4 linked regions of the Homo sapiens genome follow. The protein of the gene in region 1 interacts with the protein of each later gene in a pairwise test. Each region holds a gene or a part of one and is shown in the gene's direction. Other genes may lie near its edges.

Evidence for each region.
Region 2: the proteins of RNF8 (region 1) and ZNF346 interact in binary tests that used the Homo sapiens proteins (3 or more experiments, as listed by UniProt).
Region 3: the proteins of RNF8 (region 1) and CCDC50 interact in binary tests that used the Homo sapiens proteins (3 or more experiments, as listed by UniProt).
Region 4: the proteins of RNF8 (region 1) and WASL interact in binary tests that used the Homo sapiens proteins (3 or more experiments, as listed by UniProt).

The regions. Positions count from the first base shown.
Region 1 is NC_000006.12:37,356,713-37,364,041, forward strand, and holds part of RNF8 (E3 ubiquitin-protein ligase RNF8), read left to right. Parts: intron 1-3,733; coding exon 3,734-3,862; intron 3,863-7,329. UniProt on the Homo sapiens protein: E3 ubiquitin-protein ligase that plays a key role in DNA damage signaling via 2 distinct roles: by mediating the 'Lys-63'-linked ubiquitination of histones H2A and H2AX and promoting the recruitment of DNA repair proteins at double-strand breaks (DSBs) sites, and by catalyzing 'Lys-48'-linked ubiquitination to remove target proteins from DNA damage sites.
Region 2 is NC_000005.10:177,018,023-177,025,730, forward strand, and holds the start of ZNF346 (zinc finger protein 346), read left to right. Parts: upstream 1-4,673; 5' UTR 4,674-4,716; coding exon 4,717-4,891; intron 4,892-5,137; coding exon of another isoform or gene 5,138-5,212; intron 5,213-5,684; exon of another isoform or gene 5,685-5,697; coding exon of another isoform or gene 5,698-5,752; intron 5,753-7,708.
Region 3 is NC_000003.12:191,324,426-191,332,493, forward strand, and holds the start of CCDC50 (coiled-coil domain-containing protein 50 long isoform), read left to right. Parts: upstream 1-4,968; 5' UTR 4,969-5,249; coding exon 5,250-5,298; intron 5,299-5,988; exon of another isoform or gene 5,989-8,068.
Region 4 is NC_000007.14:123,703,883-123,711,211, reverse strand, and holds part of WASL (actin nucleation-promoting factor WASL), read left to right. Parts: intron 1-1,988; coding exon 1,989-2,123; intron 2,124-4,385; coding exon 4,386-4,472; intron 4,473-4,838; coding exon 4,839-4,935; intron 4,936-6,554; coding exon 6,555-6,578; intron 6,579-7,329. UniProt on the Homo sapiens protein: Regulates actin polymerization by stimulating the actin-nucleating activity of the Arp2/3 complex. Involved in various processes, such as mitosis and cytokinesis, via its role in the regulation of actin polymerization.

The DNA.
Region 1 (7,329 bases):
AAAGGATGGTTATATTTACTGGTTTGGGGGCTTTTTTGTGGGGTGTTTTGTTTTGAGACAGAGTACTCCTTCTGTCACCCAGGCTGGAGTGCAGTGGTGTGATCACACCTTCACCTCCCTGGTTCAAGTGGTTCTTCTGTCTCAGCCTCCGAAGTAGCTGGGATTACAGATATGCACCACTATGCCCAGTTACTTTTTGTGTTTTCAATAGAGGTGGGGTTTCGCCATGTTGGCCAGGCTGGTCTCGAACTCCTGGCCTCATGTGATCCGCCCGCCTGGGCTTCCCAAAGTGCTGGAATTACAGGTGTGAGCCACCACACCTGGCCAGATTTACTTGTTATTTGAGAAACAGTAGGAATTGTGCCCAGGAGGAAAGAGATAGTCTTAGTGAAGGTGGGCAAAGACAGGATGATCTTTTAGATCAATAATGTGTGTAAGCTCAAAGGCTTGCAAAACTATTGTAAATGAAAACAACCCCTCACATATGGGTCGTCAGTCAGTTCCCACGGGAAATTCAGTGTTATGTTGAGTGGTCCTGAGATTTCCAGGTAACCTCACTGCACTCTTTAACTACAGTATAGGTGAAATATCAGTAGTACCAAGGTAAATTCTAAGACCAGGCAGTGCAGGGAAGGATGTAAAAGAATGATTCCTTTTTCTGGGTTCAGAGTCTGTTGGAGGCAATGTCAGGAAAAGGCACTCTTCTACTGTTTTGGTACTGTTTTCCCCTGGCTACTCACAATGGCAGTCTGGCTGTCTCCCCTCAAGTATTAGCATGTAATATGAGATGCTTCCTCTCTTAGAGATAAAGCTACCTAAATAGAAATTTTACTGAATATGGACGACAGATAAATCCCTAGCCATTCCATTTTTAACAGATATGTGTATTCAGAGGAACTTCTATAATTAATATAATTCTGGCAGAGTGTGAAAGAACTGAAAAACTTTGTGCTCAGTGTTGGTGGAGTGATCACCACAACATTTTAAAGAGAAACAAGTGAGACTGTATGAGTTCCAACTGCTGCTCCATATTTTCCAATGGTAATACAGTCTCTAACTTCTGACCTAAAAACACCCACCCTAAAATCTTGAGGACTCATATGCAAGACCTCTTTATTCTTTCATTCATTCTCAAATACTTAACTGAACACTATGCCAGGTATAGAAACACAGTGGTAAACAAGACAGATAAAGTCCCTGCTTATCTAATTTATATTCTATTACGGGGACAGAGGGGAAAAGTAAAATAAACAAGATAATTTTGGTCTGTGATAAGTACTTCCTAATAACTGAAGAAATATGATGGGAAGCAGACAACCAACTTTAGACAGAGGTAATCAGAGTAGGCTTATGAGTAGCTGGAACATGAAAGATAAGGAGCCTGTGCAAGATCTGAGAGAAGAGTGTTCTTAGCAGAGGGGCTAAGTGAAAAGACCCTCAGGTAGGCTGGCACTTCGGGGAGATGGGCTTAAGGAACAACAACAACAAAAAAGTTTGAGGGGCTGGAGCAGCTAGTGTTGGCACTATGGTATGAGTTAAGACTAAAGAGTAGAAGGGCTCAGGACATTCAGGGTCTTATAGGCCATGGAAGGAAGTTTGAATGATTGGACAGTTTTAAGGAAAGAAGGAAAATGACCTGATTTAAAATTTTTACATTTCTATTCCAGTTACTATTATAAAGCTTATGGGGGCTAGAGTGAGAACAGAAACAGTAGGAGGCCAGGTGGTTTGGACTAAGGCTGTGGCTGCAGAGATAGGAATGAACAGACTTAGGACATATTTGAATTATAGCCCATATAATTTACCAGTGATTTCAATGTGGGGATGAGGGACAGAGATGAATCAAAGATGGCTTCTGGGTTATGGGTTGAGTAGTTGGTTGGATAGTATTGTGAATACTGAGATAAGAGTTTGTGGGGAGGAATAGATTAGGTCAGTGAGTCGTGGTGGTCTTTGAGGGACTGAGGAGGACAGGCATTCTGAAAGATTTTAAAGAGAAGAGAAGAGGGCAGTTTTAGCTAACTTTGGTTTAAAGTTCCCAGTTAAGGTTGTGATATGGGACATTAAAGAGGTCGTTTGTGCACTAAGAAGAATATGCAGGGAGCCGGGCGCGGTGGCTCACACCTGTAATCCCAGCACTGTGGGAGGCTGAGGCAGGCAGATCACTTGAGATCAGGAGTTCGAGACCAGCCTGACCAACATGGTGAAACCCCGTCTCTACTAAAAATACAAAAATTAGTTGGGTGTGGTGGTGCGTGCCTGTAATCCCAGCTACGTGGAAGCTGAGGCAGGAGAATTGCTTGAACCCGGGAGGCAGAGGTTGCAGTGAGCTAAGATCGTGCCACTGCACTCCAGCCTGGGTGATAAAGCAAGACTCTCTCAAAAAAACAAAAAAAAATTAACAAACAAAAAAGAATAAGGGAATTCTGTGATCTGGAACTCAGAAGAATTTCATTTCCTTCCTTCACAGGGTTGTTATGAACTAGACTGGTCCAACAGGAAAGTATGATAGATGTGAACTGGGGCTTCTTTTCAACCTTTTCCGGAAGCTCTCAAGCTGTTCTTGTGGATAAGACAGAGAATATGTACTCCAATGCAAAGACTTTTGGTTGAATTATAACTGGCTGAAGGTATATCCAGATGGTGTGGGTTAATGTTTACTAGGTTTTCCTGAAAACTTTGCCTTTGGCTGCATCCCATTCTGTGTCTTGAACGAAGGTATAGAAGGCATCATCTCATAAATTTGGTGGAAGAGATATTAAGTATGTCTGATCTGATGGCAGATTAAAAATTCAGAAAGGTCTTGACAAATTGGTTTGATAGGCTGAACTAGCAAGATGAAATTTAATAGGAATCAATCTAAGGTCCTGCGCTTGAATCCAAGGTTTTCCATCCAGTCAAGTATAGAGCAGAAGAGACAGGACTTAGGATAGCATTTCTTGGAGGAGGGGGAGACCAAGAAATTTAATCATTCCTAAGTTCGAGGATACACTGGCAGTGTACTAGATCTGCTATGAAAGCTAATGCAATTTATATGCTCCAGTGATAATATCTAGAACTGGGAAAGTAACACTTGCGTTTGACTGTGTAATAGAAATTAAGTTTATTTTTCTTAATATGCCATCCAGGAATAAAGATAAACCAGCAGTCCCTTCACAGACTCATTAGAATGGCAAAGGCTCAAGCCCATCCCCTGGGAGTTAAGTTGAAGTAACTGGGAATACAGAACCAGGAAAAGAGAAAACTCAGTGTTCACTTTATATCTGTGCCATTGAAAGGGGATTGGAGATTTCCCGATGGTGCCCAGGGCAAAGCCAGGGCCAATGGATGGAATTTACAAGGAGAAAAATGCCAAGTCAGAGACATTTTAAAAATTGGAGGGCCTGCCTTATGTAAAGTTACTGACAGTATTTATGCGTTGATGGGATGTGTAGAAAGAATTCCTCTATCTCATAGTCATTGAACCAGATGACCTTTCAAGATCTTGGCAACCCTGAGATACATGGATAACTCTTTTTCAGCTTTCTCTTGTTGTCACAACCGTTTGCCTTTTTCTACTTGGTGGTTCTCAAGACAGCTGAAGAGGAGATAGCTGATGCACTGTTTTGGTTCCACAGGTGTCTGGTTTCTTAAGTCAGGACCTGCATATGCTGCTGGTTGATGAGATTTGTAAAGGACCTCCCTTTTCAGCACAATGACTGATGGTATTTCTTGCATTGTTGTTGTCTCCCAGGTGACTGTAGGACGAGGATTTGGTGTCACATACCAACTGGTATCAAAAATCTGCCCCCTGATGATTTCTCGAAACCACTGTGTTTTGAAGCAGAATCCTGAGGGCCAATGGACAATTATGGACAACAAGGTACAGGAATTCACAGAAGCCTAATGACTTTTATTTGTTTTTAAATTACTTTTTTTTTTTTTTGCATAGGTAATTCATGGTATAAAATTCAAAAGTATAACTTCTTCTTTCCTAGCCATCCAGTTCCCTTTTCCAGAGGCAGCCACTTCCATATGCTGCCAGAGATTCGATTATGCTAAAATAATTTCTCTTGATTTGGGTTAAAGTTTGTTAACTTGAAGAGAATACCTGAATTGGGGTAGTAGGTCCTATTCCAGAAACTAGACTAAGTTACTGGGCAAATAAGCCTGTTTGAGGTGAAGCTCCCAGAGACCCTGGGAATCTGCAGAATCTGCTGACGCTTCTGGAGTACACTTATGGCTCAGTGGACAAGGGGAGGAGGGAGAAACTGATCTGATTGCGCTTAGCTCCTTTCCTTCCTCACTCCTTTCAATCTGAGCAACCTCCCCTGGCCTTTAAAACATGTTTTAAATATTGGTGTTCCGAAGATTTCCTTTGAATAATGGGTTTTTCTCCTTTAAACAAATTTGAAAACCACTAGTTTAGTGGTAAATATATTGAGGGAGGTGCAATAGTATATGAAGCCCAGCAATTAGAAAGTACCTAATGTGCTGGGTGTGGTGGCACATGCCTGTAGTCCCAACTACTGGAGAAGCTGAGGCCAGAGGATTGTTTGAGCCCATGAATTCTGGGTTATAGTGTGCTATGCCATTCTGGTGTCTGCCTTAAGTTCGGCATCAATATGGTGTCCTCCTGGGAGCAGGGGACCACCAGTTTGTCTAAGGAGAGGTGAACTGACCCAGGTTGGAAGGAGGGCAGGTCAAAACTGCTGTGCTCATCAACAAAGGGATTGCACCTGTGAATAGCCACTGCACTCCAGTGTGGCTGACATAGTGAAGCCCTGTCGCTATCAAAAAGAAAAGAAGATACCTAAAGTGCAGATATACAAGCACCGAGGAATGTGATGAAAATACAGACTATGAGGTGAGAGAAATTCTAACATAAACAGTTAATGTTTAGGAAGTATAACATGTCTTTAAGTGCCATTTCATATTGCTTCACTGCCCCAGTTAGGATTTTAAAGGTACCATTAGAAGGGAGGGTATCCCACAGGTCTGCCTGCCATCCTCATATTGCGTGCATAAAACTGCTAGATTTAAGCTGTTGGAAAGTATCTTCCTGCTCTAGAATTAAGTTGAGTTGGCACTGTATTGAAGGAGACAGTACATAAATGCTAAGTAAATCAGTTCAGCACTTTTAGCAAGGCACCATGAGCAGGATAAAAATTGGCACTGAGATTATCTACTTTAACCCCTTATGTAGACAGATGAATCTGAGGCCCAGAGAGATAAACTGTCTTGCCCAAAGCCTTCTCTATAATGAGCCAGGACTTAAGTTTCTCTGCTATGCCCTGTGTCAAGTATCAGTAAAGTATGTAAGCAATTTGCTATACTGGCTTTATGACGTCAAACAATTAATTATGCATATTTAAAATATAGCTGCAAGGTTTTAAAGCCTCTGTAATAGCGTATATCAAAACAGCTTAGGAAAAGATGTTTTCCTCATCAGAGTAGGCTGTATGAGAGTTAGGATTACAATATTATAGAGGTGAGTTCTCTGCTGCTGCTTTTCTTAATTATGTGCAGTGTAGATGTGATCCACTTATGGGATTAGCAGATTTTCATAGGTTGGGAAGCCAACAGCTGATCAACTTCAGTGTTATTTGAATTTCAACCACAGGGATACAGAGGCAGCCTGTGCAAGATCAGATCATGACTGTGCTCCGGGCTCACTCTCCAGTGTTTGCTTTGTACCCTTCCTTCTAGGGTTGCTGTTATCATATGATTCTTCTCAGGTCTCAGTCAGGCAATAGAGAGGAAAGATAGGTTTCTTAACAACCTGTTTAAACTTTTTAGCTGTGATTGTTTGTGAGATAACTGATTTAATTTTAAGAGAAGCTAGGACTGGGGTGTTTTGATGGAACAATTCTTACAAGTAAATCCCCCCTGCCCCCTGCACTTTTCTTTTGACTACAGATGCCCCCTTTCTGGCTTCCTCCTGGCATGATGCCATGGCAGCCCTCTTCTGCTGATAAGAGACCTGAATTTCAGCTGTAGGGTATTATTGCTGTGGTTGTGTTTGAAGTCATTTGCCAAATCTTTTTCAAGAGATAGGTGTTTCTAACAAGTTAAAAACTCAGAGCTGCATTCTCTTATCTGCTGGAATGGCCAGAAAGTGAGAGCTTAAGTATAGATACAAAAATTGCAAGAAATGTTATTTTGGTTTAAAATTGGCTTAAAATATAGAAAAAAACCTTGGAGGACAGCTAAGTCTGCACACAGTATGAGGATGGTTCTAGTTGTGTAGGTTTTGGTCAATTCATAAGCTTTTCAGATGGCCCGTCCTTTGTATTGGTATCCAGCTCTTTCAGAAAATTGGTTGTTTTAAAGTCACAGTATGAAATGCCTTAGAGGTTCAGTCACGTCTTACTTGAGCCTTTCCCATTCTTACCCTCCTCTCCTGTTGCTTTTCACCTGCTGCCTGGTGATTCCTACCTTTGTTCTTCTGCAGACTCTGGCATTTGAAGTCCCTGTTGAGTGTACTCTTACGTGAACAAAGTTTGCTGTTTGGGACAGTTCAGCTTCTGGTCCTCCAGCAACTAGAGCAGTGGTTATCAACCCTGTTTCCAGTTTTTACTCTCACCTGGGGCACTTTTTAAAAATACTGATGGTAGTACAATAAAAGCGTTCATTCGTCAAAAAACACCATTAAGAGAGTAAAAGGCAAACTCAGAGGAAGATGTTTGCTACACATTATAGTCAATGAAGGGTTTATACTGAGGTATCTGCAGAACTCCAATAAGAAAAAGACAGATATGCCCTATTTAAAAATGAGCAAGAGACAAGCACTTCACAAAAGGTTCTATCCAATGAAAAGTTGTTCAACCTCATTAATAATCTGGGGAATTTAAATTAAAACCATAATGGAATACCTCTACACATTCACCAGAGTGGCTAAAATTGAAGACTAGTGATGCCAGGTATTGGTAAGGATATGGAGTGATAGAATGTTCTTACCCTTCTGTTGGGAGTGTAAATTGGTACAATTTGGGAAATTATTTGGCATTATTCATTAAAGTTGAACATACATATAGCTCTTGACACAGTATTTTCACTCCCCGGGAAACAGCCCAAATGTCCATCAACAGTAGAATGGATAAATTGTGGAATAATCTTATATTGAAACACTATACTATAGTGAATATGAATGAACTACTATATCTAATAACATGGATAAACCTCACATAATATTGAGTGAAAGAAGGCTGGGCGCTGTGGCTCACGCCTGTAATCCCAGCACTTTGGGAGGCCGAGGCGGGCGGATCACGAGGTCAGGAGATCGAGACCATCCTGGCTAACATGGTGAAACCCCGTCTCTACTAAAAATATAAAAAATTAGCCAGGCGT
Region 2 (7,708 bases), on another chromosome or scaffold:
CTGTCACTAGATTAGACATACTAGAGTTAGAAAAACTAGAGTTTAAGGCTGGGCGTGGTGGCTCACACTGGTAATCCCAGCACTTTGGGAGGCCAAGGTGGTCAGACCACATGAGATCAGGAGTTCAAGATCAGCCTGGCCAACATGGTAAAATCCTGTCTCTAATAAAAATACAAAAATTAGCTTGGTGTGGTGGTGCACACCTGTAGTCCTAGCTACTTAGGAGGCTGAGGCGGAGAATTGTTTGAACCTGGGAGGCGGAGGTTGCAGTGAGCCGAGATCGCACCACTGCACTCCAGCCTGGGTGACAGAGTGAGACTCTGTCTCAAAAAAAAAAGAAAAGAAAGAAAAACTAGAGTTGAATCTCTTTGAGAGCAAGAACTATATCTTAAGCACTATAGTTTCGTTTGCACATGCACACACATGCACATACAGAGTCAGTATTTAAGCAACTGAAATGTATGCTGAACAGTAGCCAGTTCCCGTCCCTTAGCAAAGTCATTTCCCTGGGATTGTTCATCTCCCATGGCAACAATACACAGTAGGATGTGTTGGAAAATGGTTCTCATTTTCCACAAGGAGGAAATAAAAAGCCAGCCCAACAAATATAAGGCATCACCTGCACTGCCAGGTCCCAGCAAGGAGTCCAGGCCTGGGCCATTCCTGGAAGCACTTACACAAAGACAAAATAGAAAACTGGTGACAATGAAGGCTGTTCAGACCCTCAGCAGGGTAGCTCAGGACTCTGCCTCCATGGCACAGGGGATGAACCCTGACAGCACTCATTGGAGAATAAATGGACATTATTTTGAGCATGTAATTGGATTGGAGGTTGTTTTCCAATAATATGCAAAGCAACTTATATACTCCACTCCCAGTATTTGTTACATAGTATTAAAAATATCCTTGTGGGTTCTGCGACTTCGACAAAAATCCCCTGTATCCCTTGGATTATCCCTGAATAACTTATGCTATATGCAAGTGTAAGTAACTAGAACTCTTAAGATAAATAAGTAGTTTGTGACCATCCTGGCTAACATAGTGAGACCCCGTCTCTAAAAGTAAATAAATAAATAAAAAGAGAATAAATAATGTGCAGTCACTGACTTTTAGGCTGGTCATCTGGTTTTGGCAAAAGGACATAGATTTGCAATCTAAGGACCAGTGTTCAAGCATGGGCTCGTACCTAACTAGCTGTGTGATCTTCACAAAACCTTTACCTTTCCTAGTCTGTTTCTTTATCATCACTTATGAAGAAATCCCTCACAGAAACCACCCTGAGGATTAAATGCTATAATGTAGGTGCTTTGCAAACTGTAAAGCACTGCCCTGGGCTGGGTGTGTGGTTCACACCAGGAATCCCAGCACTTTGGGAGGCTGAGGCAGGAGGATCGCTTGAGCTCAGGAGTTTGAGACCAGCCTGGGCAATATAGGGAAACCCTGTCTCTACAAAAAAAAAATTTTTTTTAATTAGCTGGGCATGTTGGTGTCCACTTGTAGTCCTTGCTACTCAGGAGGCTGAGGCTGGAGGATCACTTGAGTGTGGGAGTTCAAGGTTACAGTGAGCTATGATCATACCACTGCACTAGTGAGACCCTGTCTCGGAAAAAAAAAAAAAAAAATTGTAGGCTGGGTGTGGTAGCTCATGCCTGTAATCCCAGCACTTTAGGAGGCCAAGGCGGGCAGATCACCTGAGGCCAGGAGTTCAAGACCAGCCTGGCCAACAAGATGAAACCCCGTCTCTACTAAAAATAGAAAACATAGCTGGGTATAGTGATGGATGTCTGTAATCCCAGCTACTCGGGAGGCTGAGGCAGGAGAATTGCTTGAACCCAGGAGGTGGAGGTTGCAGTGAACTGAGATGGTGCCACTGCACTCCAGCCTGGGCAACAGAGACTCCGTCTATAAAAAAAAAAAAATTGTAAAACACTGGCCAAACATCAGTCACCTACTGTATTGGAAGCTTGGAAGCTCTAGGGCCTGAGGCCTGACATAGTGCTGGTGCTCAATATTTGTAGTATAAATAAGGAAATACTTGTAGTATAAATGACTAAATTACACCAATGAGCTATATGATCTCAAGCAAGAATAATTCATATCTGTCTCTCTTTGGCCTCCTCTGATATTACTTTCCTCCTTGTTCACTGGGCTCCAGCCATGCTGTCGTTTTTCCTGTTCCTCCAACACATCATGCTCTCTCCTGCCTCAGGGCCTTTGTACCTGCTGTTCTCTCTGCTAGAACACTCTTGCCCAGCTCTTTGCATGGCTACGCCTTCTCATTAATCAGGTCTTAGCTCAAATGTCATTTTCCCAGAGGCTTCTCCTGATGCCACCCTGATTAATGTTCCTAACACATCATTCACCTGAGATGCAATCCTGTTTTATCTTCTCCTTAGCACTTATTATTGTTAACTTTTTTTGTTTTTGAGATGGAGTCTCGCTCTGTTGCCCAGGATGGAGTGCAGTGGCACGATCTCGGCTCACTGCAAGCTCCGCCTGCTGGGTTCACACCATTCTCCTGCCTCAGCCTCCCGAGTAGCTGGGACTACAGGCGCCCGCCACCACGCCCGGCTAATTTTTTTGTATTTTTAGTAGAAACGGAGTTTCACCATGTTAGCCAGGATGGTCTTGATCTTCTGACCTCGTGATCCACCTGCCTCGGCCTCCCAAAGTGCTGGATTACAGGCATGAGCCACTGCGCCAGGCCTACTGTTAACTTTCTTATTGTACTCTCCTCCACTACAATAAAAAATACTTTACTACAGCTTCCCTGTCTTGTTCACCACTATATTTCCATGCTCAAAATATCATCTAGCTCATAGTAAATTCTCCATAAGTATTTGAAAAAATGAGGTTGAAATAAGCTAGTAATATTAAAAGCTTCATTCATTAAACAAATGTTTTGTATATACCTAGGAGGGTCCAGGTTCTATTTCAAAGTGCTGGAGATTCAGGTGCAATGACAAGAGACAAAAGGCTACGCAAGGTGGCATGTGCCTGTAATCTCAGCATTTTGGGAGCCCGAGGCAGGCAGATTATGAGATCAGGAGTTTGAGATCAGCCTAGCTAACATAGTGAAACCCCGTCTCTACCAAAAATATAAAAATTAGCTGGGTGCCGTGGCATGTGCCTGTAATCCCAGCTACTCAGGAGGCTGAGGCTGGAGAATTGCTTGAACCCGGGAGACGGAAGCTGCAGTGAGCCGAGATCGCGTCACTGCACTCCAACCTGGCGACAGAGCAAAACTCTGCCTCAAAAACAATTTAAAAAAAGAAAGAAAAGAAAAGAGACAAAAATCCCTGCCTTCCTGGGGCTTGCCTTCTAGTCGGGAGACAGACAATAAGCAAGATAAAAGGTAAAATATAAAAGAAATAAAGCAGGAAAGAAGGACATGAAGTGTGTGTGGAAAAGTAACATTTTAGATGGGATAGCCAGACAAGGTATTTTAGATAGAGTAGCCAGAGAAGGAAGTGGGAGACTGAGCCATGAAGATATATGAGAGAAATTCACCCCAGGAGGCCTGGATAACTGGGACAGGAATTAAGGAGTTGGGGACTGAGTAACACATCAGGATCAGGGAGGTTAAGGGAAGTCAGATTGTACAGGGCCTTGTTGGTCGAAGTAAGGACTTTGGCTTTTTTTTTTTTTAGTCGGAGTTTCGCTCTTGTTGCCCAGGCTGGGGTGCAATGGCGCCAGCTCGGCTCACAGCAACCTCTGCCTCCCGGGTTCAAGCCATTCTCCTGGCTCAGCCTCCGAGTAGATGGGATTACAGGCATGTGCCACCACACCCGTCTAATTTTGTATTTTTAGTAGAGACGGGGTTTCTCCATGTTGGTCAGGCTGGTCTCGAACTCCGGACCTCAGGTGATCCGCCCCCCCTTAGCCTCCCAAAGTGCTGGGATTACAGGCGTGAGCCACCGCGCCTGGCCGGACTTTGGCTTTTACTAAGAGTGAGATGGGAAGCTGTTGGAGGATTTGAGAACCTAAGCGTCATGATCTGACTTGTCATAAGAGGATTCCTGGAACTGCTGTGCTGGGAATGCCAGTGAGGTTGCTACTACAATAACCTAGGCAAGAGATGGTGGCTCCCAAAGACACGGGAAGGAGCAGCTCTGGGGTTGGAAGATAAAATTTGGGGTCTGACAGCTACATTGGAGAAGCCTATTAGCCATTCGAGTGAACTGTGGAAGAGGCAACTGGATGTATACAGGTCCGGAGTCTCGGGGAAGATCAGAGCTGGGAGCTGGCACTTGGAACTCAACAAATAGTATGTATTATTAGCAGTAATATGGAACCTTAGCTGTACTACTACTTACTAGTAGCGAGCTCTTGAGTTAACCATTTTTAGGTTCTGGGCCTCAGTTTCCCTGTGAATGAAATGGCGAAAACACTCCCACATAACGGGACCTTGAGAACGAAATGAAAAGTATCAAGGGCTGACCGTGAGCAAGGTGAGAGCCATGAGCCAAAACCACACGAGCCTCTCCGGGAGGGGGGGGTCACTGCTGCGGAATCAGCGACAGGTTTCCGAATCCACGGCACACGCTCTGAGGTACCAGAGGTAGCAAAGCAAAATAAGCGCGGGGTCCCGCACGGCAGCGCGGGTGCAGCGCCCAAACCTCGCGAGATTTGTTGGCTGGGCCAAGTACCACCCACCAAATCTCGCGATACCTAGGCGCCTGAGAGGCTCTCTACCGGTGAGGGTTTGCGGGGAAGATGGAGTATCCCGCGCCGGCCACGGTGCAGGCCGCGGACGGCGGAGCGGCCGGGCCTTACAGCAGCTCGGAGTTGCTGGAGGGCCAGGAGCCGGACGGGGTGCGCTTTGACCGCGAGAGGGCGCGCCGCCTGTGGGAAGCCGTGTCCGGTGCCCAGCCGGTGGGTAGAGAGGAAGGTGAGTCGGGGGCTTTGGAGGCAGAAAGCCCCTCGCCCGCTGCGCGGCTCGCGGGGAACTGCGGAAGCGCCGACGGTCACACCCCCTGGCCCGCCTCCTTGCGTGCTGCGCCCCGGGACCCCCAGACTTGTGCTCCCCATCCGGGCGCGGGCACCCCAAGAATCGGGCCCCCAGCGCGCTGAGGGTGAAGGGCCGCTCACGCTCAGGCCCTGGGTTTTCCTCCTCCTCCTTCATCATTCACTACAGCGCAGTTTTTCCCACATTCGAGGACTGTCATCCCTATACTCGTCCTGTCGGAGACCTACAGTCTTTGCCATCCCGGTAAGCCAAGCCGAGTGCCCCTCACCACTCCTTGACTCCCCATCGTCCCAATCTCCAGATTTCCTCCTAGGGCCTCTCGCCTCCCTTCTCTCAAGCCCCACACTTCCGAGGGCTCTGGAAGGCCTTCTCCTTACCCCCTGGGTTCCTCCTGGTCTTGATGACTGAGCCCTGGCTTACCCGTTTTTAGCTCTCTGGCCTCTACTTGCTGGGTCCCTTATTCTAAGGTGGGGACAAGGAGCCTGAGAAACTGGTCTGGGTTTGCTTTGGCTCCAGCTTCTTTGTGTCCTACACTTGACCCAAAGTTGCTGAGAACAGTGTATGCAAAGCCACGTTAGGGGTCACTCCTGGGCCGAAGCGCCCCAGCTTGCTCTGCACTTGACCTGAGACTGGGTAAGATGGGATGAAAGAAAGAGAAGGATGGAAAAGAGCTGTCCTGACCTGCTTGTGTGACTCCCTTCACTGTCCTTTACAGAGCCAGCTGCTTGATGCTAACCCAGATGTACAAGAACTCTATCTGGGCTTCTCTGCTAACCTTGTCAGGTATCTGGAGGGAAATCAGATTTCTCCAGTGATTTGTTTGCTTGCTGAGCAGACTTGTCTTCGAAAGTTTAATATGCTATTTGTGAACTGACTGCCCTGGATAAAATTGGATAAAATTGAAATTTTGACCATATCTAAGGAAGGTACACAGACCTATACCCTGGTATATACTTCTCCAATTTAAAAACAAGTCTAGCCTGTCTCCTAAGTTTATATATATATATAATGTATATTATATATAAAAAAGAAGGAGACAGGGCCCCAGAAATGGTGTGTGTGTATGCGTATATATAATATACACACACATAAATGTATATATATAATATATACACACATAAATCTGTATATATATTTTTATATACACTTGTAAGTATTTTATGTATACACACACACACACACACACACTATTTCTGGGGCCCTCTCTCCTTTTTTTTTTTTTTTTTTTTGAGAGAGTCTCACTCTGTCACCCAGGTTGGAGTGCAGTGGCACAATCACACTGCAACCTCCGCCTCCTGGGTTCAAGCAATTCTATACTGCCTCAGCCTCCGGAGTAGCTGGGATTACAGGCTGCTGCCATGACGCTCAGCTGATTTTTGTATTTTTAGTAGAGATGGGGTTTCACCATGTTGGCCAGGCTGTTCTCGAACTCCTGACCTCAAGTGATCTGCCCGCCTTGACCTCCCAAAGTGCTGGGATTACAGGCATGAGCCACCGCACCCGGCTCTCCTACTTTCACACTTGTTTGGTAGTTTCCTCCCCTACCCCAATTTTCCTTTCATTAACTTGACAAACACTCACTGATGCCTGCTCTGGACCCGGAACTGGTTGAGCTTCAGAGCTGGAGTATCAGAGGAAGATACTGCCCTTGCCCTGGAAAGGCTTGCAGTCTAGTCCAGGAAGCAGACACCAAAACAGTTCCAGTGTAATGTAAAGGATGCAGTGCTGAGGAATGTTTTAAGAGTTGGAGGTGCACAAGAAGAAAGTGACCTTTGCCCTGGATCTTGAAGCAGAAAACCACTGTGCTCTGAAAAGTGAACTGTCTGCTATGTGTATATGAGTGTATAGTGGCACTGTTATGACCCATTTCATTTCCCTGTTCTCACTTCTCCCACATTTATGTGAAATCTAGGTAGACACCTACAACATTAAGTTCTACTCACCCTTTTTCTACTCTTAGCACCTTCATGTGAGTTACAATTTATATACCATACAAGTCACCCATTGTAAGCATATCGCCAGTGATTGTTAGCCAGTGTACAGAGTTGTATAGCCATTACCACAGTCCACTTTTAGAACATTTCCGTCACCCCAATTAGTTCCTTTGAGCTCATTTATATTAAATCCCCACTCCCACCTCCTGCCCTAGGCAACCAGTGACCTGTTTTCTGTCTTGGGTAGTCTTTTGAGTTTGGCTTCTCTCAGCATGTTTTTGAAGTTCAGCCAAGTCATGGTGTGTATTAGTACTTCATTCCTTTTTATTGCTAAATAGAATTCCATTGAATGAATATAACACATTCTATTAATCCATTCATTAGTTCTAGACATTTGGATTGTTTCCAGTTTGGAGTTTTTGTGAATAGTGCTGCTGCGAACATTCATGCCCAAGTTTTTGTGTGAACATACATTTCATTTCTTGAGTATATCCCTAAGAGTGGAATTGCTGGGTCATATCGTAACTCTGACATTTTGGAGAACTGCCAAACTGTTTTCCAAAATGGCTTCACCTTTTATATTTCTGCCATCAGTGTATGAGGGTTTCGCTTTTTCTATAACCTTGACAACACTTGTCTTTTTTGATTATAGGCATTCTAGTGGGCATGTAGTGATATCTCATTGTGGTTTCCTAAAGACTGATAATACTGAGCAACTTTTCAGGGGCTGACTACCCATTTGTAGATCTTTGGTGAAATATCTATTCACATCATTTGCCTATTTTGTAATTGGGCTGTTTGTCTT
Region 3 (8,068 bases), on another chromosome or scaffold:
CATAATTCCCACATGTGGTGGGAGGGACCTGGTGGGAGATAATTGAATTATGGAGGCGGATCTTTCCCATGCTATTCTCCTGACAGTGAATAAGTGTCATGAAATCTGATGGTTTTATAAAGGAGAAGTTTCCCCTACACAAGCTCTCTTGCCTGCCACCATATAAGATGTCACTTTGCTCCTCATTTGCCTTCTGCCATGATTGTGAGGCCTCCCCAGCCATGTGGCGTCCATTAAACCTCTTTCCTTATAAATTACCTGGTCTTGGGTGATGTCTTTATTAGCAGCGTGAGAATAGGCTAATACAATGGGGTATAAGCTCATCAGAATAAGGAAGTCAAGGCCCGGCGTGGTGGCTCATGCCTGTAATCACAGCACTTTGGGAGGCTGAGGCAGGTAGATCACTCGAGATTAGGAGTTCAAGACCAGCCTGGCCAACATGGTGAAACCTCCTCTCTACTAAATATGCAAAAAATTTGCTGGGCGTGGTGGTACACTCTTGTAATCCCAGCTACTTGGGAGGCTGAGGCATGAGAATCGCTTGAACCTGGGAGTTGGAGGTTGCAGTGAACCGAGATTGTGCCACTGCACTCCAGCCTCAGTGACACAGTGAGACTCCATCTCAGGAAAAAAAAATAATATTAATAAGGAAGTCAAGGAAAGAGAGATCAGGTTACCAGAAGGAATGACTCTGTATGTTTATGTATACACTGAAATCATCAAGTGTTCTGTGATGACAGAGAGTGAGAAAAAAAGGTCTCATCTGTAAGGAGTAAGAAGTTACCCAGAAGTGTACAGATAATTGCAATAAGGGTATGTAGTAGGTGACAGAATTTGAGGATATGAGCTTTAAAGAAGTTGAAAATATTTAAAAATAGGAAAGACATATGTTCTAAAAAAGGCAATAAGATAAAAACCATGGCACCTCCAGGTCCAATGGGGTCTAGGGTATGTTAGAAGAAACAGCCTCTAATTTAGAGGGCTCTTGGAAGAGCAATGTCCCCAGGTGACCCCTGAGTTCCAGTAGGAAAAGAAGGGAAAGGGAATAGTTACAAAGGAGATATGGGGAATTTTGTGAGTAACTGATAGTGAATTCCATAGGGTGAGGGGACTTGAGCAACTGAGGAAAGTTGAGAGCATGAATAGGGTTGGGGAACTTACATATGTTATGAGAGTCCAGACAAAAATGCTTCAAGGCCTGGAGTAAAGAGGCCTAAACTGTACGGTTGGATTATTGTCCTAATAGTCTCTACTATGGGCTGAATTATCTGTCCCTAAGATTCACATGTTGAAGCCCTAGCCTCCAGTAATTCAGAGGGACTGCACTGCAGACAGGGTCTTTAAGGAAGACATTTGGGTTAGCCCTAATCCAATCTGCAAACTAAAAAGAGGGATTTCAGAAGAAACCAAATGTTCTGACACCTTGCTCTTGGACTTCTAGCCTCCAGAACTGTGAAAAACATATATAATAATTTCTGTTATTTAAGCCATTCAGTCTGTGGTATTTTGTTATGGCAACCTTAGAATATTCATACAGTCTTCTTGGTGAAAGTGAATAACAGTTCTAATTGCATCCTCATTTTTGGAACTGTTCTCTTAGGTATATTATGCTGATGAGCTAGGAAGCACTGGGGGCCAAGGAGACAGATAATTCTTTCCAGAAGTATAGTTCTGTGGGTCCCCTTTCCTGTTTTGCCAAGGTCCAGTGTAATTTATTCATTTGCCTATATTGTTTTTTTAACTTACTTTTAATTTGTGATTCTTACTGATAATAAAATTGGATAACTATATTTATTTATTTATGCAACAAATATTTATTGAGTGCCTATTATGTGCCAAGCACTTTTCTAGATACGCGGATATTAGGGAATCAAACAGATAAACCCCTGCCCTCACAGAGCTTACCTTCTAGTAAGGTAAGCTCTAACTGGGGGATGCTTTTGTGGAATTTGGTAGTTTTCAAACTGGAGTTTTCATTTCTTATGACCAAAGTCTCCCTACTCCAATCCAAGCATTTTATTGTTACCAAATTCACTTTATAAAAGTAGAAAATGTATCATGTAATATCCACCTAGAAAAAAAAATCAATTGATGCCTCCATATTGCCTTATAAATAAAATCCTTATTTCTCTCTATGGCATTCAAGTTGTGATTTGATGCTGAATTACTTGTTTGGCATCTGCCCCAAATTAGGGATCTGTATCCATCCTGAGAAGCCTTATGCTTTCTCTTTTATTGCAAAATGGACATTTCAGGACACCAAAAGATGTAAACTTGTTACAGAAATTCACCATATGTTCATTCCCTATAAATACTCAAAAGATACTAGCTCTTCCCCGTGTTACTGTCAGTCCTTTGCTAGAAGTTGCCTACTCTGTAATGCTGAGCTCTAATTGTTTGCTCAGCTTGGGGACCTATACAGAACAGGTGTGGAGTAGGAGAAGGAAAGCCCAACTATGGGGTGGATTTCCAGGTCATCTGCTCTAGTACCTGAAAAGGGCTCCTGGTTTTCATTACTTTTTCTGCTGAAAGCAGCCGATTCTCTAAACAATAGTTGTGGCTATTATATATGTTTCCATTTCTTCTCTAGGCCAGAAATGTGGATATTTTTATGCATATCTTACTGTAAGCACATCATATTTTAAGCATATCTTACTTTTGGCATATCTTACTGTAACAGTCACAGTCTAGGTAGGAAACAGGAGGTGCACTGTAAGTGATTTTACTGAAAAGAATGTAATGAAGAGACAATTTCAGAGGTATTAACTGGGTTAAGAGAACTAGGGGAGGCCGGGCGTGGTGGCTCGTGCCTGTAATCCCAGCACTTTGGGAGGCCGAGGTGGGCGGATCACTTGAGGCCAGGAGTTCCAGACCAGCCTGGCCAACATGCCAAAACCCTGCCTCTACTAAAAATACAAAAGATTAGCCAGGCGTTGTGGTGCACACCTGTAATCCCAGCTACTCGGGAGGCTGAGGCACGAGAATCACTGGAACCTGGGAGGCAGAAGTTGCAGTGAGCCAAAAGGAACTAGGGGAAGCCATCACACTCTAGGCCTGAAGGGACACTGGAAACAAATTGTTTTATTAGAGACCCATGAGAGCTGAGGCCATGGAAAAGAGGCCTCTACACAGGCCCTGTAGTCATAGAGGGACAGGACTGTGGCCAAAATTTTGGGTTAAAGGAAAGAAGAATACTCTGATATTTCTCTCCTCCCTTCTTTTGATTTTCTGCCAGTGCTTCCCATTGGTCAATCACAACAGGAAGCCACAGGTCAAAGGGGCCTAGTGATTTATCTGTAGGCATCCAAAGGCACGGCTTGGTAGAGAAGTAGAAACGATAGATTTGGGGAGGGAAACAGAAAATACTGCTGTTATAAATATTCTCTAGACCACAGGAAGTTAAAAAAAATTACTAGATTACAGGACAATTAAAAAATTCCCATAAATCTACCTTTCTAATACCACTTCCTTCTTATTCCCACATTTAACCTGCTGAGTGTTATCTCTGCCTAGCACTGGGGTGGGTAAACTTTTCCTGTAAAGCATATTTTAGACTTTGAGGCTTAAGAGGCAAGGTCGAAAATATTATGTCCTATTTATGTAGTGATTTGAAATGTAATTATTTGAACATATAAAAAACAGTCATTCAAATTCAGTGGCGTAGATTTGGCCTGTGGGCTATACTTTGCTACCCTCTGGCCTTGAAAGTCTTCTAAATTTTTGCTAGCCTAAAATCCACCTACTTTTCAATGTCAAGTTCAAATAAAACCTCCCCTACGTGGCCTCTCATACTGGGACTCTGAGCTGTGAGTGACAGAAAATCAACTATTACTAGCTTAAGCAAAACTGAGGATAAGTTGAGAGTTTGCGGGTTGTAGATCCCAGAATCCAGGAGTTGCTGAAATGCCAGCTGCTCTGGGGATATCCTGCTTTGCTACTGTGGTAACATCAGAACATGCCCTCTTCATCTCCCTTTCTCTTCTCTTTGCTTCTGTCTTCAGTTTGGCCTCATCATCTCCTAGAGGCAGATCTTTTCCACAAGAAACAGAATATGTAACTCTTTATGTACCCAGGAAAGTATTCTGTTTGACCTGTCTTGGTCACCCAGCCACCCTTCGATGAACCCATGTCGGTGGAGGAAGGGGGAAGAGTGATGGGGTAGTCTCGAGGTTCAGACATGGCACACGTTTGGGAGAGAAGCTCACCTCTGAGGAGTGGGGAAAGAGGCAGTTTCCCAAAAGGAGGATGCATTCTGTTGCCAGGAGATGAAACAGGAGAGGTTGTCTATTTTAGAGAGATAGAAATGTCACAATTACAATCCAATGTGTGCAGCGCTATAACAGAGATAAGTCTGACGCCTCGTTATCACCCACAGTACCTAACATCACACTTGGTAGACACATTCATGCGATTTTGATGAATGAATGACTCAGTTCTCCCAGCTGATTGTGTACACACTCTACTCCAAACTGGCCCAGAATTTTATCAGCTGCTCTTCATTCTGTACGTTGTATTTGGGGTTTTTATGGCCATCTACCATCTCTCCTCTAATTCCGGGTGCAAAAAGAGTGTATGAGAGAGAGGCAAGCATGCAGTAAACATCCTGTGTTAATCTCAATCCCAGAACCAGACCACAGAATGCTGACTACACCGCTCACGGGAAAGACTATGTTTTAGGTGACCCGTGTGGCCTTTTTGTTGAGGCCTTTAGGATACAAGGCCCCCACCTAAAGACGCGACCCTCCCGTAGGAGGGGGGCAGGGCCCGGGGGCGGGAGCACAGCGGGGCCCCAGCCTCAGGCGGCGCGTCACTGAGCACAAAGGAGACAACAGCGAGGCGGCAGCGGGCGCTGATCTTCGCTCGCCAGCCACTCGCAATTGCGGTTACAGACCTGCAGCTCCCCCTCCCCCAGCCGGCCCGCCCGCCTTTCTGTCTCCTCTCTCCCTCCGTACTGGACGGCCCCGGTCCATTTCCGGGCTCCGGATATTTGGTATCGATTGGGGCCGGGGACGCGGAGCAGGTGGCCGCGGCGGGGCAGCTGGGCCGCCAGCTTGGTGCCTCGGGGACCGTCTCCCGCTGCTTTGGTCACCAGCCCCTGCCCGCCCGACCCGCTCCGTTCTCCGGCCTGCGAGCCCTGCCGGCCGGACTTTGCGCCGCGTCCGGCGCTGCTGCTGCGCTCGGGGCCCCGCTCGGCGCCGGCGGTGACCGGGAAGCCCGCGTTAAAGGGGCAACCGGGACCCTGGCCCGGTATGGCTGAAGTCAGCATCGACCAGTCCAAGCTGCCTGGAGTCAAGGAAGGTAAGGGCCCCGGAGGGAGAGCGCGCGGGACCCTCCCCTCTCCCAGCCCGAGGTTCTCTCAGGTCAGGGGCGTTGCCATTTCGGCTCCCGCGGCCCTCGCCCGGTGCCCGCCCTGCGTTGGCCTTGCCCGGACGTGAAAGGAATTGAATTCAGGTTCTAGTGTGGGACGTTGGGCAAGTCTCCGACGTTCCAAGCCCGTTTTTTCTCAAGGGGGTGGTTGGGGGGGGGGGGGGCTAGCAGCAGCCCCAGCAAGTAGGTGGCTGTGCCCGTGTTCTCGTGCATCGCAAAGCCTCAGTGGACGCTGAGAGCCGGGTGAATCTGACTTACTCCGCTTCTAAAAAATCGAGGCCCAGCCTGGCTGGCTTGAAGGCTGGGAAGTGGAGAGGGGTTGACATTCAGTTCCGTGTGGAGCCTTTGTTTTGAAACATGACTCTTTCCCTCCTTCTCTCCCTACTTTTCCTAGGCCGGCGTCTGGCTGGCTGACTTTCCCACCTTCCTCAAGGTTTAAAAGTTTAGTCTTGGCTGTGTTCTGCGCGGGCGGGAAGCCACTATAAGCATTTTCTTACAAACAAAACACACACACACACACACACACACACACACACAATAGTGAGCGAGGGGAACAGGGGACTGATGGCCTTGTCATTGCTTTTTGTACCAATGTCCAGGAAAGTAGAGATTAGTACTGACCTGGCTTTAGCTGACAGCAAGTAGCCTTTTGACTTCCCTTCTCTTGTTTTTCCACTAGCTGCCTCAGGACCTAGCTTTTTTTTGCTGAGATCTTAGGTGCTGGATCGCCTTATGCCTTGAGTTATCTTTGTTTATTCTTTGGTCCTAGGAAGCATAGACGTTCCAGAGTGCTGACGCAGACCCCTAAGTTCCAAGGGCTTTGCAAAATCGGCTTCTGTTGTGAATGTCATTTGTATCGATTGAATACTGTAGCCTGAGGCGTCTTGGAGATGTGGAATTGAAAATAGTTTTTGCTTTCTTGGAACCGCTTGTTTTATTGCCAACTTAATTTGACTCCGTTGGTCTTGTGTGTGCTCAGGCCAGCCCAAAAATCTCAGGAAAATGAGGGACTGCTTGATTGCTTTCTCAGAGTTTCAAGCACTAGGAGACTAGTGACTAGTGGTCACTGATTTTATGTAGAATTTCTGATGGGCCTAGTTCTGTCTTACTGTTCCGGAAGGGTGTTAAAGCTTAGGCGTGAGATTTTAGCGTTAATACTTTTCTACCTTTCCGTCCCTGGTATGGCTTTGATGAAGACTTAGGGCTTTCACCTGTAGAAAACAGTTTTCACTCTGCTGTCAAGACTAAGGAGGCTGAGCGATAGGAAAGGCGGATCCATACTTTTGAGAGTTCTTATCTTAGAGATTGTCTGGTTATCCTTTACTTTTGGATATGAGGGTTTTTTGTGTGGGTATGTGTTGGGTTTGTCTCTAGAGAAAGAGTGATCCTTGTGCAGTGTGTAGTGCATGGTGAGTAGAATGAGAATTGGAGTTCAAACAAAACCTGGTATGTATAGTATTAATCATATGGTGCTATGATTTTATCCAATCCCCTATTCATGTGAGTGAAAAAACATAAAACTCTTCATATACATTTATATTACCCTTAGGTCTTCTGATTTCGTACCAAGACATGAATGATGTATTCTAACATATTATTTCTCAAGGAGTTCCACAAACACCTTCCATATAAAAATGCAAGATTTTTCCATTTCCACACTCTAGAGTCTAATACATTTAAATTAGCTTTCATTTTGCGTAATACGGTGTTTGGCAATCTCTTTTATGTAATCTGGTAAATTGGTAAGAAAATTCAGTGTGGCTCTTTCATTAAGTTACAATTAAATATTAATTTTGAAGGTGGTCAGGAATCGATGAGATCACTGTCTTTGTAAACATCTGACTTTTCTAGTTCCAAGATCATCAAAGGAAGTGATGTATTATACTAGGAATGTCCTACTAATGGTGGTGAAGTTTTTGATCTGAGAAGTATTCAAGTCTAATAAAGTGTATCCTTCCCTAATATAACTCTTAATTATGGCCCAGTTACTCCCTAACAGTGTCTTTATCCTAATTAAAGAGAATGAAGCTTGTGCCCCTGATAGGGTAAAACATGTGCAAACATTGAGACTGTGGTAATATTGAAACTCCAACTTCATTTGAGAAGGGTTAGTAGTAGTAATTAGTTTAATATTCTGATGCAGATTTTTGAACCCCATTCAAAAAAATCCCTGTATCTGTCTCCTCTACTTTTTAATTTAAACTTTTGATAGATATATATGCAGTTACAATTTATATTCAATTTGGTATCATGGGGTAGATTCCAATAGAGATTAAGAAGAATAGTGCAGTGAGTGTGTGCCCGTTTCCATTGCTGTTTAGGAGGGGATGGGGCACCCTGTGACCTTTTGTCGTGAACATTTCAATAGAGGTCGTGGGTAGCAGCTGACATTAGGGTAAGGGGATATTTAAAAATCTTCTTTCCTAGGTTGAAATCTAATGCTTGCTTACTTAGTTTTTAAGGAAGTCAAAAATATTCATCATTTGGACAGACCTTTTGAAAAAACACACACACATACACCTATGGTAGTATTTATACCTTGGTAAATCTCTTAAACTGGGAGACAAAGGGAAATGATTGAGTTCATATGTAGGTGAAAAGAATCAAGTCAACTAAGTGTCAACACATCATTTTTTCTGGTTAAAAGTGTGTTTGGAACATCTGTATACTTTTTGTAATGGAAAACGCTGTTGCCAATATT
Region 4 (7,329 bases), on another chromosome or scaffold:
AATATTTAGTCCTTTGGCTAGCAAGGGGATTTTCATAATGGGATTTCAGACCCTATTGAATAACTTTTTTGTGTGTGTGTGTGAGCTGTTACTTCTTGATTTCTGGTAAAAAGCGAAGTAGGGAGATTTTTAGATCTTCATTTTGGTACATCTAGTTTCCTAATTGCTATCTTTTTAGAAATGAATGTATTTTGACAGCACCATACTAAAAAAGACTTTATGCGAATTCTCCTTAGAACTAACAAATTGCTTGTTTGATTTTTGCATTCTTCAGCCTGGTATTTGGTACCTTTAGATAGTGTATGCAAGACGCATTTTTCTGAAGTTTTCAGTGCTGGCAGCAGGATGCCTGTGGCACTATCATCCTGAGATTGTGCACTTGCAAACACAAGTGTGTTTTGAGCAGGCCAAAAAGTGTCCCACATTCTTCAGTCTCCTCTTTGAAACCCAGTGTCCCAGGATACACATTTTTTGTTTTTAAGTTATCATAATTTTTATTGACTCTTGCAGAAATTTTTCTGTTCCTTTGTGTCCTACTCAGTACTGTATGTGAAGTTCAAGGTTGAGTTTGGTCTGTAATGTTAAAAACATAACATTGAACATTGTTATCTGAGCAAGTCTTTATGGACTTTTGATCCTAACAGTATACTGATCTTACATTTCTGAATTTAGTATCTAATTATAAAAGATTTGTGCATATAATTGTTCTTTGAAATTCCTCTTACCAAAAAAGGGCACCCCTCAGGCATAGTTCAGTAAACCTAAAACAGCATATCTTCAAATCTTAATGTAGTCTATTTTTTATTACAGAGCCCAAATTCCGTTGAACTAAGGTACCATAATTACTTAATCAGCTCCTATTTTAGGTTATTTCAGTTCTTCCTCTTTAAAAAAATATATATTTATATGAAATATTTTATTTTTATATTTATATTAAAATATGAAGTATTATATTCTAAATGATTTTCTTAATTTCTAGTTTAGAAGTGAAATTACTTTATCAGAAAACATAATTATGGCTTTCAGAGGATTTGTAAGTGCTTTATCAGTGTAAGTGTGTATCACTTTCATAGAAACTTAAGGTTGAATAGTTACATTCTAGGTTATAAAGTAAACTTAATTTAGAATAAAATTAGTTTACACCTTTTCATGATATAGTCTTGAGGAAGGGGGCAACATGGTGTACTGGAAAATCCTAATGCCCTGAAGTGTCCATTGCATGTAACGAGTTAGCTTCCCTCCTATACATCTGAAAGGGTTCTATTTAGGGACTATCCTTGGTAAAATTGAGACAATAGTCACTCAAATCTTTTTCATATCCTCAGTATAGCATTAAAACTGCGTGGCCACTTGTGCAAATCACTTACAATCTTAAACTCACTTTAGAAAGGAGATACTATAATCTGCCTTCCAGGGTGGTAATACTGCTTTCAAGTTTGTCTCAATCCTTATCTAGATAAGTGCTTAACTGCTTTATACAAGTCAGCCATTACTAATGCTACTACTTCATTGCTTAAGTGTTCACTTTATTGGGAAACAGTGTAATAGGGGGAGTAAGAATGCTAGATTTGAAGTCACAAATTGCCTGGATTTGGAATTTCAGCTCTGCCATTTAGCTGTGTGGTATTGGGCAAATTAACCCCTTTAGTGTCGGGTTTCTCAAGTAAAAAATGAAGTTATCATAGTAATAACAAATGAGGCTATATTTAAAAGTGATTAACACATTTCCTAACACATTTTAAGCATCAATAAATGTTTTCAGTAATTATTGTTATGTGATTATTGTATTAGTTATTTATTACTACATAAGAAATTACTTCAGAAACTAGTGGCTTAAAATAACAATACATGTTTATTATTTCCTTGTTTCTGTGAATCAGGAATTTAGGAGCAGCTTAGCTGGGTGGTTGCGGTCAAGCTGTCAGCAGGGGCTATGATCATCTACATATTATTTTGAACCTAATGGTTATAAATTTTATATTTTGCAGACTATGTCTTCAGCAGTGGTGCAGTTATATGCAGCAGATCGGAACTGTATGTGGTCAAAGAAGTGCAGTGGTGTTGCTTGTCTTGTTAAGGACAATCCACAGAGATCTTATTTTTTAAGAATATTTGACATTAAGGTGAGTTTTGTTTTGCTTTCACTTTAAACTAGGTGATTAGGTTTTCTATATCAATTATAATTTAGTTTAGATTTGTTTATCCTATATGTGATATTTAAATTTATACATAAACTAATATTAGAAGAGTGAAGCTTGGTTTTTAGATATTGCATACGGAAATCATGACCAAATGGGAACATGTCTGAAGCCAGAATGTGAATAGTTTCCTATTTTATCTTTCTCCTGCTACCACGCATTAAGGCTTTTTTTTTTTTTAAATTATGCCTGTTGGTTCTTGGGCTTTCTTTACACTCTGTATTTTTTTAATGAAACTCTTTTATTCCACCTGGTTCATTATAGAATAGCGTAGATAGTCTGTTCAGGTAACAACAAAATAATATTTTAGCTCAGTATGTACTGTTATTTAGCCCAGGTTTAAAACATTTCAATATCTATAAAAATCTGTTTGCTACTCATTTTTCCTTATATTGTTTCTCATGATAGATATATTCAGATTTTCATAGCTTTATATCCCTCCCTTCCAATCATAAATCACATTGTTATAGATTGAATACCTTGTTAGGTATTCATTTCTTACAGTTGTCATAAAAATATTTTGCTAAGATGAAGTCTCCATTATTTTTTTAAAAAACCTTTCTGTAAGTAAGCCTCCATGATTAATATTTATATGTGGCAATAAGTGCAATGAGATTTTAATTACAAAAAACTAAAACTGCCTTTAAACTCTTGGGCGCTAATATGACCTGATAGATAACAGTGAAGAGATTTTTACACCTCTGGTCTCAGCTTTATTTGTAAAATCAGATAACCATCTTGGTTTGTTATGAGGTATTTCACTGAGATTAAATGAGATCTCAGTTATGGTATTTGGTAAATTAGTGCTTCTTTTGTTGTTGTTGTTGTTGTTTTGAGACAGGGTCTTGCTCTTGCTCTGTCACCCAGCCTGGAGTGCACAGCTTACTGCAACCTTGATCTCCTTGGCCCAAGCAATCTTCCCACCTCAGCCTTCTGAGTAGCTGTGACTACAGGTGCATGCCACCACACCTGGCTAATTTTTGTATTTTCTTATAGAGATGGGTTCTGCTGTTTTGCCCAGCCTGGATTCAAACTCCTGGACTCAAGTGATCCTCCTGCCTCAGGCTCCCAAAGTGCTGGGATTACAGGCCTGAGCCACCAGTCCCGGGCTAAATTAGTGCATCTTAATGTCTGCTTCCAAGACAGCTGAGAGATATGACATGCTTCTGTCACTAGCAGTGGCTTACTAGTAATCACTAGCAGTGGCTAACTATGGCAGTGATTCTGGGGGGTGGGGAACACATACGTAGTTTGAAAGAAACCCCCAAGTGCTTTGACATATTTCTCATAACCATTGAGAAGCACTATTTAGAAATGGCATACACTTACTACTCCACTAAGAAGAAAGGGATTCCATTGCAGTGGTTATAATGTGTGAACAGTGTATTTTACATATTTTTAAATTGTGGTCTAGGTAGAACCTTGCATTTCTGAATAGGGCAATGACTATCTTTCTCTAACCACTTATTTCCAATTGCTGGACACTCATAATTCGTCACCTTTGGTATTAAGATTAAACATATTTTTTATACTATGGCAATAGATATGGCAGCCATCATGGCACTCTTATCCATAGTTTAACCTTGATACATTTTAATTATCAGTCTCTTTCTGCATCATGATTAATACTACTTATACTAGTATATAATTAGAAAGGTACTCTGCAAAAGTTAAGAATTTGAAGATGGTTAATTAGCAGTACAAGGAAGGTATATTTGACCCTCCCACATCTATAAAATTGAGGAAAAGAACATAAAGTATTCCTGCAGTGTTTGATAGTACATTGTCTAAATATTGCTGGTGGAACTGTGCTTTGGTAATCAGTTCATGTACAAAAGTATCCTATTCCTTCTATGTAACATTGATGACCTAGTAATTATTCTGGTTATTATGTATTTGACCAAGTAGCTGAATTTGGAAATGGTTGGCTAGTGAGATTATATCTTAGCTGAATTAAACTGACTTGATATGTAGGTTTTATGAAAGATACGTTATCCAGTGTTTTCAGTTTTAAGAAATTACTGATTAGATTATGTGACACTATTTATATATTATAAATATGTTACATGTGTGCATTAAAAGTTATTTTTAATATAAACAGTTTTCTTAATATGAGTCATCTTCTTTGTTTTATTCCTAGAGATTATGTTTTGGTAGTTCTTATTTTAATTTTTAACTTTTTTCTAGGATGGGAAACTATTGTGGGAACAAGAGCTATACAATAACTTTGTATATAATAGTCCTAGAGGATATTTTCATACCTTTGCTGGAGATGTAAGTCATATTTTTCTTTATTGCCATCTTTACTTTTTTCATTGCTTGCCTTTTCTAATCCAAATTATTTATAGAACCTTATTGAAAGATCAAATTCAATTTGCTATTTTATTTTTTTGCTGAAGATGAAATATTCAAATTAGTATATGTGTCTGCTGTGATAGGTAACTTCTCTAATAGTAATCTTTTACTTGAACTTCTTCATGCTTTTGTGTTAAGTTATTCAGATCATAAAATAATGTCTTATCTGCTAGTAAAATTAACCTTTCGTTCTTTAGAAATATACTTCTTTTCCTCATTGTTTTTATGATATAAAGCTAAATTCATACATTCTGTTGTTTCCCCTTTGTGATGAAAATATTTCAGACTTGTCAAGTTGCTCTTAATTTTGCCAATGAAGAAGAAGCAAAAAAATTTCGAAAAGCAGTTACAGACCTTTTGGGCCGTCGACAAAGGAAATCTGGTAACCCTTTTTTAATTACTTAAATCAGGCCAGCAAACTAATGCTCATGGGGCAAGTGTGGTCCATTTCCTGTTTTTTGTAAATAAAAGTTTACTGAAACTTAACTGTATTCATTGGTTTACATGTTGTCTTTGGCTATTTTTTGTCACAACACAGTTAAATAGTGATGACAGTGATATATGGTCCTCAAAGCCAAAATTATTATCTGAAATATTTACTATTTACAAAAAAATTTGGTGGTCCTTACCTTAAAATAAATAATATTTTTGTTGAGAACTATTTTTTTTAGATTTACCGAAGGGCCCAATACAATAACCTTTTTTGTTGATAAAATTTCATATATATTGACTTTTAATTTTGCATTTGTGATAGCATTTTTTGTAAAGTTTTAAAAGTATTTTATACTTTGTAAACAAAGACTTTAGGTAAGCTTAGAAGCAAATAAGCAGAGTTGCTAACAAGATCTGTAAACATTGCCTTGTCTTTCTATTTTGTTCCTAATGCTATATACTATAAAACCCATAAGGAACTTAGTTTAGTGTGTGAAACAACTCTAACACATATAAAACAATTATAGAACAATGCAGGATAGTATAAAGCTTTAAGTTAATTGGAGTAGAACTATTACTTGACAACAGTGAACCAGGTGTTTCTCTTGTAAAGTGGAGAAGGGTGACTAGGAAAGGGGAACCTCTCCAAAATCATCTTAAGCAGATGAGTTTCAGAAGAAAGAACATGTGCTTTCATCCAGTCCTATAGTTCCAAAAACTGTATGCCAATGACTCTCAAAGTTTTTTCTTCAGTACTGACACATCTTCCCTGACCTTCAGACTCTGTCTACTCAAGTGGCAGAATAGCCTTTAGACTTAACACGGTCTGAGCAGAATATTTGATCCATGTCCTGTATCCTGAACCTTAGCCCCACTCAGATCTGTTCCTATTCTTCTACTAATCTTCCTTGTTTCAGTAAAAGGCATTTGTTCCATCTTATCCCTCAGGCTCACCATGGTCCCTCATAAATCCTATCAGAGTCCTATTGACTCTGCCTTCAAAAACATGTCCTGTCTGACTATTTCTTACCATTTCTGCTGCTACCATCCTAATCCAGGCCACCATGATCTGTCAGCTGGGCTGCCACACTAGCTCTCTGACTGGTCTTCCTGCTGCTACTCAATCCTTTTTACTATCTCTTTTCTATACAGTAGCCAGAGTAAACTTTTAGAATTGTAGATTAGGTTATATCACTTTCTCTATTTAAAATTCTGTAAGAGCTTCCTATCATATACACATAAAATCTATAGTCCTTAACCATGGCCTGTGGAACCCTACATGATCTAGTCCCTGACTTTCCTTCTTGTCTCCTTTCACTGTGCCATTTGCTCACTGTAGTCCAGTCTTCATGATGTTCTTTCATGTTGCACCCTCCTTGGGGCCTTTGAATGTATTGTTCCCTTACTTATTTTATTTAGATCTCTACTTAAATGTCGGGTCTTCTGAAAAATCTTCCTTAGTCACACGTATGTCAATTTAGGAATAAGACAGTTTAGTGAATTAATTTTTTTATGTTGATGTTGTCTTACATATATTTAATAATATTCTTCTAATTTATTTTCTAACAGAGAAAAGACGAGATCCCCCAAATGGTAAGCTTTTTGACAATTATTAATCTTTTAAGATTTTAGATGACAGTTTAATCCTTGTGGAAACATGTACCATACATTAGTAATATTTAGTATCTTTTACATGTTAATCCTTGTGGAAACATGTACCATACATTAGTAAGTAATGTTTAGTATCTATGATCAAATTATACAGTTTATTGTGTTCCTATTTTTAATTAATGATTGACAGATGAGACTTAGGAAACAATATTCTTTGATATTTTTCTAACATGAAGAAAGAATACATAGGGTGAAGATCACTAATACTTATTATATTTTAATTCTGGATTCACAGTTGACTAAGTATACAATCGGACCTTAACATTTTTCCTAGAGGCAGTACATTTTGTCTAGAATATTTGTTAATGTCCTACTTTAAGATTTACCTTTCATTCTTATTTCAAAATATTATTTCACATTGCTTATGTGTTATATGAAGCCCCTTTCAAAATGAACACCTACTGTTGTGGTGTATTTAGAACTAATTTAGCTCTGTATAATGCTCTTTAATTTGATAATGACCACTTGAAGTATTATGAATTCATTTTTTAAAAAACATTGAATACCAGAGAGTAAAAGCAGAATACCAGGATGTAAAAGATAAGGTCTCAGGGGTAGAAATTCTTACTCTAGACTTCATAAACTCCCTGAAATTGTGTGCTAAATATGTTCTTTTCTCTGGAGAGAGAGGATCCATGGCTTTCATCGTATTTAAATGAGGTTCCTGACTCTA